Homo sapiens: one gene and its partners. The protein of the gene in region 3 purifies or fractionates together with the protein of the main gene of each other region. This does not show direct contact. Each region holds a gene or a part of one and is shown on either strand. Other genes may lie near its edges.

Region 1 (4,069 bases), on a different chromosome or scaffold from region 3:
CCTGCTGACCCTCTCCGATAAAACTTCCCATAATCATGGGAATGTTCTATATCTTTGCTGTCCAATATGGTAGCCACTAGCCACATGTGACTATTGAACATTTGAAATGTGGCAAGCAGGCCAAGCATGGTGGCTTACGCCTATAATCCCAGCACTGTGGGAGGTCAAGACAGGAGGATCACTGGAGCTCAGAAGTTCGAGGCAAGCCTGGGCAACATAGTGAGACCCCATCTCTACAACAATGTATAAAAATTAGCTGGGCATGGTGGCGCATGCCTGTAGTCCTAGCTACACAGGAGGCTGAGGTGGGATTATTGCTTGGACCTAGGAGGTCAAGGCTGCAGTAAGCTGAGATCACACCACTGCACTCCAGCCTGGGCAACACAGCAAGACCCTGTCTCAAAAAAAAAAAAAACAAAGAAAAGAAAAGAAAAGAAAAAAGCACTGAGGAAATGAATTGTTAACATTTTTAATGTAAGTAAATTTCAGCTGGGTGCAGTGACTCACACCTGTAATCCCAGCACTTTGAGAGGCCGAGGCAGGTGGATCACCTGAGGTCAGAAGCTCCAGACTGGCCTGGCCAACACAGTGAAACCCTGTCTCTACTAAAAATACAAAATTAGCCGGGCTTGGTGGCGCGTGCCTGTAATCCCAGCTACTTGGGAGGTGAGGTAGGAGAATTGCTTGAACCCGGGTGGCAGAGTTTGCAGTGAGCCAAGATTGTGCCATTGCACTTCAGCCTGGGCAACAAGAGTGAAACTCTGTCTCAATAATAATAGTAATAATAATTTAATTTAATTTTTTTTTTTGAGACAGAGTCTCACTCTGTTGCCCGGGGCTGGAGTGCAGTGGTGCAATCTTGTCTCACTGCAACCTCCAACTCCCAGGTTCAAGGGATTCTCCTGCCTCAGCCTCCTGAGTAGCTGGGATTACAGGCGTGAGCCACCGCACCTGGCCTAATTTAATTAAATTTAAATAGCCACAGCACATCAAGTCCAGCCTTCTGAGCTTCCCTCCACTGGCCTTACAAGATCCCTCACTCCCTTATTGCTTTCAGACCTCAAAGCCCTGTAGTATCATCCTAGGAATCTAGAAATGAGTCTCTCAAAATCTCACTTCGTCAACACAGTGCCTGAAATTCCACCATCAGTGTGCCAACTCCTTGAGTTTAGCATTTCCTTCACCCCCGATTCCAATTTTAAGTTGCAAATAGCCCAGTGAGGGTTACAGATGAAACGGGCAAAACCTCCCCGTGAAGTAGATGGTCCAAGGGCTGCCTGGTCTTTGGAAGCTGAAGTGGACATTGCAAAGGGAGCAATGGTGTCAAGGCTGGATGCCACGCCATTAGAGCTTAGGGTCCAGAGCCCACGGTGGGAATGAGGGCAGCTGCTATTGCTCTTACCTGCCAGGGCCAGCTGTAGGGGACCGCATCCTCACCATGGACAACGCGGCTGGAAGAGTGAGAGGAAGGTGGGCCATAGCCTGAGGCTAGAGGGGAGAGGAGAGCTGTCAATCAGCTGGAGGGTCCCCAAAAGCAAAGAGGAGGCCAGGGTCCCAGTCCAAGCCATGCCTTCAACTGGCTGTGTGACCCCATGCAAGCCCCTTTCGCCCTCTGGACCTCAGTAACCACATATGAACAGTGAACATTTAAACTAGAGCAGGGCTTTCCAGAATCCCAGGAGTCCAGGGATAGAGATTCAAATGTGGCCTCCTTCATTGGGAGGATTGAAGAGCTTGATACACTTAGAACAATGCCTGGCCCTCGATGAGCCCTCAAAAAGTGAGAGCTATTGTCATACAGAGTGGAGGCTTTAAAGAAGGACTTCCTGGGTTCAAAGTGCAGCTCTGGGCTGTGTGTGGTGGTTCACACCTGTAATCCTAGTGCTCTGAGAGGCCGAGGCGGGAGGATCGCTTGAGCCCGGGAGTTTGAGACCAGCCTGGGCAACATAGCAAGACCTCATCTCTAGAAAAATAAAGTACAATAAAATAAAGTAGCCAGGTATGGTGGCATGTGCCTATAATCTCAGCTACTCAGGAGGCTAAGGTGGTAGGATTGCTTGAGGCCAGGATTTTGAGACCAGTCTGGGCAACAAAGCAAGACCCCATCTCTACAAAAAAAAAGCAAAAAATAAAAACATTAAGTGCAGCTCTGCCTTTTGTTCTATGATAAGCTACTTTACTTCCTTGAGGGTCAGTAAAATGGGGGATAATGATAGTACTGATCTCCTGAGGCTGTTGTGAGAATTACATGAGAAAGTATAAGAAAATCCCTAAACATTCTGCCTGGCATAGTAAGCACTCAATCAATGTTATCTGTTACCATTATTGTCAGTCAAGGGAGGCTGTTTGGAAGAGGTGGCCCTGAGCTGGAATGTAATATGGCAGAGAGACCAGGAAAAGGCCAGAGCATAGAATATGGAGCCAGGTAGGGGGAGTGAGAGGAGAGTTGGAGTGGTAAGTAGAACTGTGGAAATTCCAACCCAAGAAGTCCAACCACACAGTCCAAACTCTTAACCGTTTGACTTTGTTTACTGCCCCCATCAAGGACTTCCACCACAGCCCTTTGGGGGTCTTTCACCATCCACAGCTTCCCCTCCACTCTCCTGCTCCATCATAAGCTGAAAGCCCCTACAGTCATGCCCCCGGGTACAAGCTGAGACCCCCTCCTGTGGAACCAGGCATAGCATGTCATGGGACTCAGAGCGAGTGGTAGATTTCAAGGATTCCTAGTCCAGGGCAGCCCAGGGAGCACACAGACAGGTTGGGGTCTTACCAACGGCCACAAGGAGGAGGGAACTGAGCAGCCGGAGCATCATGAGTTTTGTGATGATAGGAAAAGGGCACAGAGCCTGGGGCTCTAATATAGGGCAGAAGGTAAGCAGGGGGGCTGATTGGGCCCCACTCCCAGAACAGGTGGTGGAACTCCAGGTCTCCCATGGTCCAAGGCCACAGTCCTCGCCTGCTGCAGATGGACAAGTGACAGCCAAAGGGAGGACCTAGCGTTCCCTCCAACAGGTGGCTGGACAGGTGGTGTGGAGTGGCCAACTGATAACAAGAGTTCAGGAAGAAAAGCTCATGTCAGGACAAGACCTCCTCTTTCGGAAAGAACAGGGGCACTGGAACCGGGCAGACCACGGTTCAATCCTGGTTCTGCCACCTTCAAGCTCTGCGACTTTGGGCGCATGGCTTAACCTCTCTGAGTCTCAGTTTTCTGCTCTCTAACATGAGATTTATATTAGTACCCACCTCCACAAAAAAATTCTTGTTGAGCACTTTTTCTCTATGTATCAGGCACTGTTCTAGGGGATACAGCTGTGAAAAATGCATGGTCTCAGCCCTTCTAGAGTTTGAGTCTAGGCCAGGAGCGGTGGCTCACACCTGTGATCCCAGCGCTTTGGGAGGCCAAGGTGGGAGGATCACTTGAGGTCAGAAGTTCGAGACATGATGAAACCCTATCTCTACTAAAACTACAAAAATTAGCCAGGTGTGGTGGTGAGCACCTGTAATCCCAGCACCTGTAATCCTAGCTACTGGGAGGCTGAGGGAGGAGAATCACTTGAACCTGGGAGCGGAGAGGCAGAGGCTACAGAGAGCCGAGATCATGCCACTGCACTCCAGCCTGGGCCACAGAGCAACACTGTCTCAAAAAACAAAAACAAAACCAAAAAAAAAAACAGAGAAGAAAAGAAAATGAAACATAGGTGATTGGGGTAGGAATGGGAGTAAGTCATTTAGATGGGGGGGACAGAGAAAGTGACATTTGGGCTGAGGAGGTCATATCTGATGGAGTCCTGAGGATAAGTAAAAGCCAGCCACGGGAATCCCTGAAAGAAACGCGCTCTGAAGGGAGGCGACAGCAGGTGCGAAGTTCTGGAGGCTGCAATGGGCTTGACTTGTTCAAGGAAGGGGAGGCCAGTGTGACAGGAGCTTGGTAGTCAAAGTAGAGAGGGGTGGGAGATGAGGTCAAAGAGCAGGCGACCCCGAAAGTGGAATTCACAGGTGATCCAGCCGTTTCCCTCCTAGGTCTATACCGTGAGAAAACCTTAGGCATGTGCTCCAGGAGGTGTGG
Region 2 (3,704 bases), on a different chromosome or scaffold from region 3:
TGCACCAAGTCAAAAACTCAGTCTCACTCCTCAGTGCTCATCCACTGCAAGGTTCAAGGTTCAACAAACTACAGCCACAGGCCAAATTCAGCCTCCCTCCCGCAAGCTAAACAAATATGGTTTACATGTTTTTTTGTTTTTCTGGGTTTTGTTTGTCTGCTTGTTTTTTTGTTGCTTTGAGACAGGGTCACCCACTCTGTTACCCAGGCTGGAGTGCAGTGACGAGATCATGGCTCATGGCAGCCCCAACCTCCCAGGCTCAAGCGATCCTCCCACCTCAGCCTCCTGGGTAGCTGGGACTACAGGCACGTGCCACAATGCCCAGCTAATTTTTTTTTTATTTGTATAGACAAAGTCTTACTATGTTGCCCAGGGTGGTCTGGAACTCCTAGGTTCAAGCGATTCTCTTACCTGGGCCTCCCAAAGTGTTGGGATTACAGGTGTGGGCCATGGTGCTCGGCCATGGTTTGCATGTTTAAATGGTCACAAATAATATTCCACAATACATGGAAACCATGGGAAATTCCCATTTCAGTCTTCACACATATGGTGTCACTGGAACAGAGCCATGCTTATTTATGGAGCATCTACAGCTTCTTTTCACTACAAGGGGAAGTTGAGTAGTGGTGACAGATCTGTATGGCCTGCGGAGTTGAGAATATTTACTACCCAGCCCTCTGCAAAGCCTGCCAATCCCTGCAGAATCCCCCCGTCTGGAGAGTAAGAACTGTGTTGCCTTTATTGTAAGATTATAATCAGCATGGAGGACTTGTCCATGGTAATATTGTTAAATAGTCGACAGCTCAGAATTAGAGCACCATAAATAGGAACTACTAACCTCGTTCTCCCTTCTCTCCACTCGTCCCATCCTTCCCCGGGCTGCCAGGACGTCCTGGTTCTCCTAGGTGGAAAAGCAGAAAACAGGCATGAGTTGAAATTCCATTTCTGATTTTTCTGGCCATTGGTCTCCATCAGCCATGTGTGTTGGAGAGTCTGGGGGTGACCCCCGCCCTGACGGGCACTCTGTCCTCCACACAAGCGCAGGTGGAGAGAGGCAGGCATGAGCGGGCATCTGGGGTGCTGAGCTGCGTGGGATAAGTGACCTAAGAAATGAACTGAGTGACTTCCCAAGCGCCCATCTCTAGGACGTGCCTAGAGCGCACAGCAAGACAGGACGAAGAGGGAGTGTGTGCAATGGGGACTGACTGTCACGATTGTGTTCCTCTCCTGCGACAAGGACTTGGGACGTGGTCTGAATGTTGGAGGTGCCAGGAGGTTTCCTCACTCTGTTTCTCTTCCATTACTCTTGAGGAGAGTGGAACGGAAGATTTACTAGGCTCCTATGAAAACACAGATGACTATGGTTACGTGACACTATCCCAAGATAGAAGAGAGAGTTCTGGAAGGATCCCTCTAGTGCCTTACACTGGGGGAAATGCCACCAATCAAGCTGGCAGAGAACATCAGGTGAGTGGGGCTCTGCTGACTACACTCAAGTCCTTGTGCTCAGAACAGGCCCCCCTGAGCTCCAGGTCGGCGTGCTATCCGTCAGCAGGTTGAAGGTGGCTCTGGCTATGGCAGTAGAGTGCTCATTGGGCCACAGCTCACCCCAGACTCTGGCTTCTCACAAAGCAGCAGAGACTCCCATACTTCAGACCCACTGACGTGGCTGTGGGGCGACAGGGGCAGGCTGGGCCGGCTTGCAGGTCCTGAGACAGGACTGACACAGGCAGACTTATTTCTGTCACGATGTCTGTTCTCCTGGGACACCAGCGCTCCTGAGTGGGGCCTTGGTCAGCGTGGGACCTCTGAATGGAGGGGGCTTATCCCTACATTTGCCCCTCCCTGCGCTCCCCTCCCCTCCCCTCCCCTCCACTGGCTGCTCCCCTGTGTCTTCCTCTCCTTCCCTCTTTTTGTTTCCCTGCTTGGCTCTCGTTTCTCCCATTCTCTAGAGCGGTGGCCTCTGAGCTTTCATGATCACGCAACCACAACTCACAAAGCATGAACACAGACCCCAATCAGTAGATATTTATATGTTTCTACATTATGCACAGGTAGTATATGGAAAATATGTTTGGTATAAAACATATACAAAAATACACTTTAAGATAAGATAAAAATGAAGTAAATTTTTAGTGTGAGCAATGTGAATGAATATCCTTCTAAGAAGTAATATATATTATATATAATACCTATGAACTACGTAGAAAAATAGATACATAATTTGCTTCTAAGAAGTATATAAAACTTGAAAGAATGGACACTGGTGAGAAAAGAGGAGAGAAATTCAACAGGGAAGAGGTAGAGAAATTTGGTATTGAATATAGGAGTGTTTGTCTTTGTCCTCTATTTTTTATCTATCACCTATTTATCTCCTTTTGTGTGTAAAATTTTATAACAAAAAATGAAAATCTTATATATTCAGAAATACAATACACACACACACACACACACACACACACACTACTGTGGTCCCAGTGTGAGGGCAGAAGACCTGATTTCATTAATGGTAAGGTTTTGCTATTCATTTGGACTGGGCTGTTTGCTACCTGGGGACTGGAACAGTGTCAATGAGCTGGAGATGTGAGCCAGGAGAAGACACCTCACAGAGCAGATGTGCAGGATGGTGGTTAGAAAGAATGTTGCTTCCTGGTGACCCTTGGCTTCATCCAGCCCACTCAAAACATCATCAGGCCACCAAATGCCATAAGCTGAGATGTGTTAGAAACACAAACTTATCTTTAAAAAGGTCCATAGAAGTTTTGATATATTTTTTTGTAATGCCACTGAACTGTGCCCTTAACCCAGATGGATCATTCTGCATATGCCTTAGATATGTGACCCTATGGTCAAGACCAGGCCTCAAGAATGGTACCCCATTCGGAAACCAAGTCTATTGGTTGTTGTTATGGAAACCACTCGGACTTCTCAGCTTTGGCAAATCTCCCTCCCAGAGGCTGAATCCTGTCCCCCAGATCCCCAGACCCTGGGACAGGGTCCCAACCTAGGTCATATAGATGCATAAGCAGCAGCTGTATGGTTTCAGATTCTCGTCTCCTTTTGTGTCATCTGTCACTCCGCATCTCCTGCTTCATGGCATGATGCGGTATTAGCTCTCACCTGCACTGCAGCTGGGTGCTTGCTGCCAAATAATTCGTGATCAGATCTCTCTATTAGCCTTTTGTTGCCAAAAATCCATCATACCTGTCACCTGAGATGGGAGGATCCATGACATCGTATACTACTGAAAATGTTCTGCGGTGTCAGAGATGAGAGAACCCAGGAGGGCAGGGGTCATGGCGATCTTGCCCTGTGCTCTCCACCAGCACCTGGCACAGAGTCTGGCATGGAGCAGACCCCGTGAGTGTTGCTGGGCAGATGGGTGGATGGATGAATGGGGTCAGGCTCCAGTGAGTGTTGCTGGGTTGATGTATGTATGGATGGATGGGGTGTGAGTGGGTAGGTGGAAAATCACACAGATGATGAGTGAATGAGATGAAAGGAATGAAGAGAGAAGTTGAAAGGCAGCCGAAGCCGTCAGGTGAGTACCTGCATCGCCTTTGTCACCCTTCGCTCCGTCTCGTCCATCTCTTCCAGGCAGACCATTGTGACCGGGGTTCCCAGGGATTCCAGGGTGCCCTTGCCTGCAGGTGTCCTGTGAGTTTATGTTCCCTGTGCAGATTTCAATGGCAAGCAGAAGCCAC
Region 3 (3,704 bases):
GAGAGACTCCACATTCAGTGAGCTGATCCCTCCCATGGGTACAGGGCAGCCACCTGCAGGTCACAGGAGGCCTCCTGTAGCCAGGGCTGCAGGGTAGGGCAGAGTGGCTGAGTCTGAGACAACGTGGGCCAGTGCAAGGCAGGACCTGCCTTCCAGCAGGAACTGGAATCAACAGCAAGTCACCAGCCACGAGGTTTTACTGAAGGGCTCAAAGAACTGATCTTTTCCTACTCAGGATGAGACGCCTTCTCAAATCTGCTTCTGGCCTCCTGCAGGGATGTGACAACAGGGTTGCTTGCCTGCCACCAGCCCTCTGCCTCGGGGAGCACACGCCCTCCACCCCCGCCCCCTGCCGCCCCGACCTTCCTGCTCAGCCCATCCGGGCCCCCTTACCTATGAGGCCCACACCAGCTGCAAGGTCGTAATAGTAGGAGAAAGCATAGAAGTCCACATGCTTCACTTCCTCCGTCCTGTGCACTCTGTTTTGAAGGACCTCTGACACTCTGGCAGCACACAGCTCGTGCAGGCTTGCCGCTGGGGACAAGCACAAGGCTAGCGGTCAGTGGGCTCCGAGCACCCAGGCCTCACAGCTGCTTGGGGCCCCTCCCAGGGGACTTGAGACTCTGACCTGAATTGTCAGGAAAAGGCAGGTCCAGAAGCCTGTAAGACCCCACCCCAAGTTGGGGCTGCTCCCCGCACAGGTCAAAAGCAGCCCTCAGGAGCCAGGGCATTGTTGGTCCCGGCGCAGGGAGTGAAGACCGTGGGCACGAAGGCAGCGGCAGACCTGGACTCTGAGGAGGAAGCTGCTGATGCCTGACACCAGTGGCCTCTGGCCTGTTGGGACCATCTGCCCTACATTCCCCCTCCGCCAGCCCGGAGTCCCACCTCCTCAGGGGGCCTGCACCCTCCCTATGTCATAGATAAGGAAGTGGAGGCCCAGCTCACTTGCCAAGCTCCCATGGCTTGAGGGAGAACAGGAACAGAGGACCCCGGAGGCCAATGGACCGTGTGGACATCTGAGGGCGCCTCTACACCCCACACCTTGACCCAGCTTCCCGGCTTTCCCAGTCCTCCTCCACCAGGCCCCATCCTTCCGAGTGCTTCCAGGGTTCCCACGGTCCACAGACCCATGCTCCAACCCTTCGATCTCATTTCCTCCTGGTGTCCCCCACCAAGCCACACCACCTCCTCCTCGTTCATTAAACACAGCAGCTGACAGAGGGCCCCGGTGTGTGCTGCTTGTGCGGCCTGGGGTGCTGCTGCTTCAGATCTGCGCAGTTTCTTGAAACCTCCTCCTGTCTTAGATCCCATGTTACCCCACGAGGCCGTCCTTGGCTGTCCTAGTTACAGCTGCGATCGCCCTCTCAGATCCCCGCCCCGTGTTATTTCTCTTGGAAGGCTTTCCCGATGAGCTTCACTGTCTGGCTCCTCCTGTGGGACACAGCTGTGCAGTCCTGCTGTGCCTGATGCGGCCCCCCGGTACACGCACCAGTGGGTGATTGACTTGGAAGGACCTGAACGGTTCGCGAAGGCATGCACCCCTCATGCCGAGTGCCCAGTCTGGGAATGGCGTTTGAACATTTCTCTCAGAAGAAACTGCAAGGGTGCAGAGCACTAGAGCCTGCCCAGGGCCAGCGGGCTCCATAGCCTCGAGCAGGATGGGTGGAAGCAGACCCTCCCTCTATTCCCGCCCAGCACAGCACAGAGTGCCTGGGCTCCCAGTCCCAGCCCTGCATCTCAGCCCCAAGCTGGTCCAGTCCTTCCTCCCTGCAGGCCTGTTAGGAAATCAGCCCTCAGGAGGAAGCTTCTGGTGACAGTCAGGGGAATGTTGAACAGAGGCAGAGGGAAGGAGCTGGCTCTCAGCACAGACACAGGCCCCTGCAGCCAAACCACCTTCACTTCCAGGGCAGGTACAGGCTCTTCAAAGAGAGGTCAGGAGCCTCCCGTGGAACGTCCCATGGGATGTGGGAAAGGCAAGGGGGAGAGGAGGCCACCACTCTCACCCGCAGAAACCAACAGGCAGCAACCCTCCCCGTACCTGCTTTCTGCCCTGAAACCCTGTACGTGACTTCTGCGTGTTCCCACTCTCCTTTGAAACTGGGAGACAAGCAAGGGCTGACCAACTCCTTTCCATCCTTAGCTGAAACAGAGATTAAAAAGGAAAGAGAAAGGAAGGTATATCACCGCCATGGACTAGGGCTGAGCTAGGAGTCGCGGAGGCCCTGGCTTGACACAGGATGGGGGAAGCTGAGTGGCTTCCAGGTCCACTGGGAAGGCAACACCTCCCTGGGAAGTGGCAGCAAAGCCTCGTTGGCCAGGAAGCACACCGCTACCAGGACCATGCCCAGCTCACGGCCCTGGGCACGCCGGGTGCCAGGCACTGGGCCAAGGGCTGTTCAGTGAAGTGTGACGACAGTCCTTTTAGGAGGGGAGCCATCATTACCCAGTTTTATAGGTGACTGAGGCTGTGAGTAGCTGGTAGGTTGGTGGCAGGGCCAGAACAAGTGCCACCAGGTGCCACCATGCCTTGAATGGAATCTGCTGCTCCAATACACACAAGCTGGGGGCTCAAAACCAGCAAAGGAAGCGTATTGGTCCCAGGGCTGGCCCCAGTATCACCTTTCGAGGATGGCAGGCTGCTGTCCCACCGAAAGGTGCTGGTCCCATCCCTGGACTCTGGCCTGGACCTGCTTTCCTTGATGGAATGGGCAGGAAATGGTGGCATCAGGGTAGCCTTCCTTTTTTGAAGCCACCACAAAAGTGTCCCAGGCTGCTCTGCTGGGGCGAGGCCATGTGGAAGAGCGCCCAGGTCTAGACAGCCGCCCAGCGACAGGCACGTGCACAGACCCTCAGGACCCCAGCGGGGGATTTAGACAGCTGCCACAGCCACAGGCATGTGCACAGACCCCCAGGACCCCAGCAGGGAGTCTAGACAGCTGCCCCAGCCATATGCACCTGCACAGACCCCCAGAACCCCAGCAGGGGGCGTCTAGACAGCTGCCACAGCCACATGCACCTGCACAGAACCCCAGGACCCCAGCGGGAGGGTCTAGACAGCTGCCACAGCCACATGCAGCTGCACAGATCCCCAGGACCCCAGCGGAGGTGCTGCCCAGATGAGCCTGTGTGGTCTGCTGTGAGATTCCAGCCGCGACTGCTGTTTGCTGTTCTTTCACTCTACTTGGGGGGTCTGTTACGCAATAACCGGTAACAAAACAGAGACTCATTCTCCTGGGTCCTCACAGCCCCCAAATGTCTAAAACAGGCACTTTGTACAGCCTGACGAGGAGACCATGAGACCTTCTTGCTGCTCTGCTGGGTGTGAGAGGACTCAGGGTCTGAGCCACGACTCCCTGGGAACCACAAAGGGCAAAGAGGTACCTGCCTTTTCTCATTGGCTAAATAATAGGTGTTTTTTGGCCCCAGAATAAGGGCTGCAGCTGTTTCTGAGACATAGACATGGTTTTTGTTTGCAACAAAAGGAATACCATTATGAAGATAAACACCAGGATTTGAAAGAAAGAACTGAAGTAGGGCATGCACAGGAGAATGAAAATTCCAGTTGAACATCCTACCCTGTCAGATACCAGGCCCTCGGAAGAAGTGGGCAGGGGTGCTGGGCCAATGGGGCGCTGGGGGCTGAGGTAAGGGCATTTGGCTGGAGCACACGTAGGTGCTGGTGAGCGCCTCATACACACATCAGA

What was found.
Region 1: the proteins of ENTPD6 (region 3) and CELA3A purify together in Homo sapiens (co-immunoprecipitation; one large-scale study listed by IntAct). This does not show direct contact.
Region 2: the proteins of ENTPD6 (region 3) and C1QTNF9 purify together in Homo sapiens (co-immunoprecipitation; one large-scale study listed by IntAct). This does not show direct contact.

The regions. Positions count from the first base shown.
Region 1 is NC_000001.11:22,000,422-22,004,490, reverse strand, and holds the start of CELA3A (chymotrypsin-like elastase family member 3A preproprotein), read right to left. Parts: upstream 2,835-4,069; 5' UTR 2,817-2,834; coding exon 2,774-2,816; intron 1,489-2,773; coding exon 1,403-1,488; intron 1-1,402. UniProt on the Homo sapiens protein: Efficient protease with alanine specificity but only little elastolytic activity.
Region 2 is NC_000013.11:24,316,015-24,319,718, reverse strand, and holds part of C1QTNF9 (complement C1q and tumor necrosis factor-related protein 9A precursor), read right to left. Parts: coding exon 3,550-3,704; intron 902-3,549; coding exon 839-901; intron 1-838. UniProt on the Homo sapiens protein: Probable adipokine. Activates AMPK, AKT, and p44/42 MAPK signaling pathways.
Region 3 is NC_000020.11:25,219,668-25,223,371, reverse strand, and holds part of ENTPD6 (ectonucleoside triphosphate diphosphohydrolase 6), read right to left. Parts: intron 2,141-3,704; coding exon 2,039-2,140; intron 535-2,038; coding exon 394-534; intron 270-393; coding exon of another isoform or gene 250-269; exon of another isoform or gene 1-249. UniProt on the Homo sapiens protein: Catalyzes the hydrolysis of nucleoside triphosphates and diphosphates in a calcium- or magnesium-dependent manner.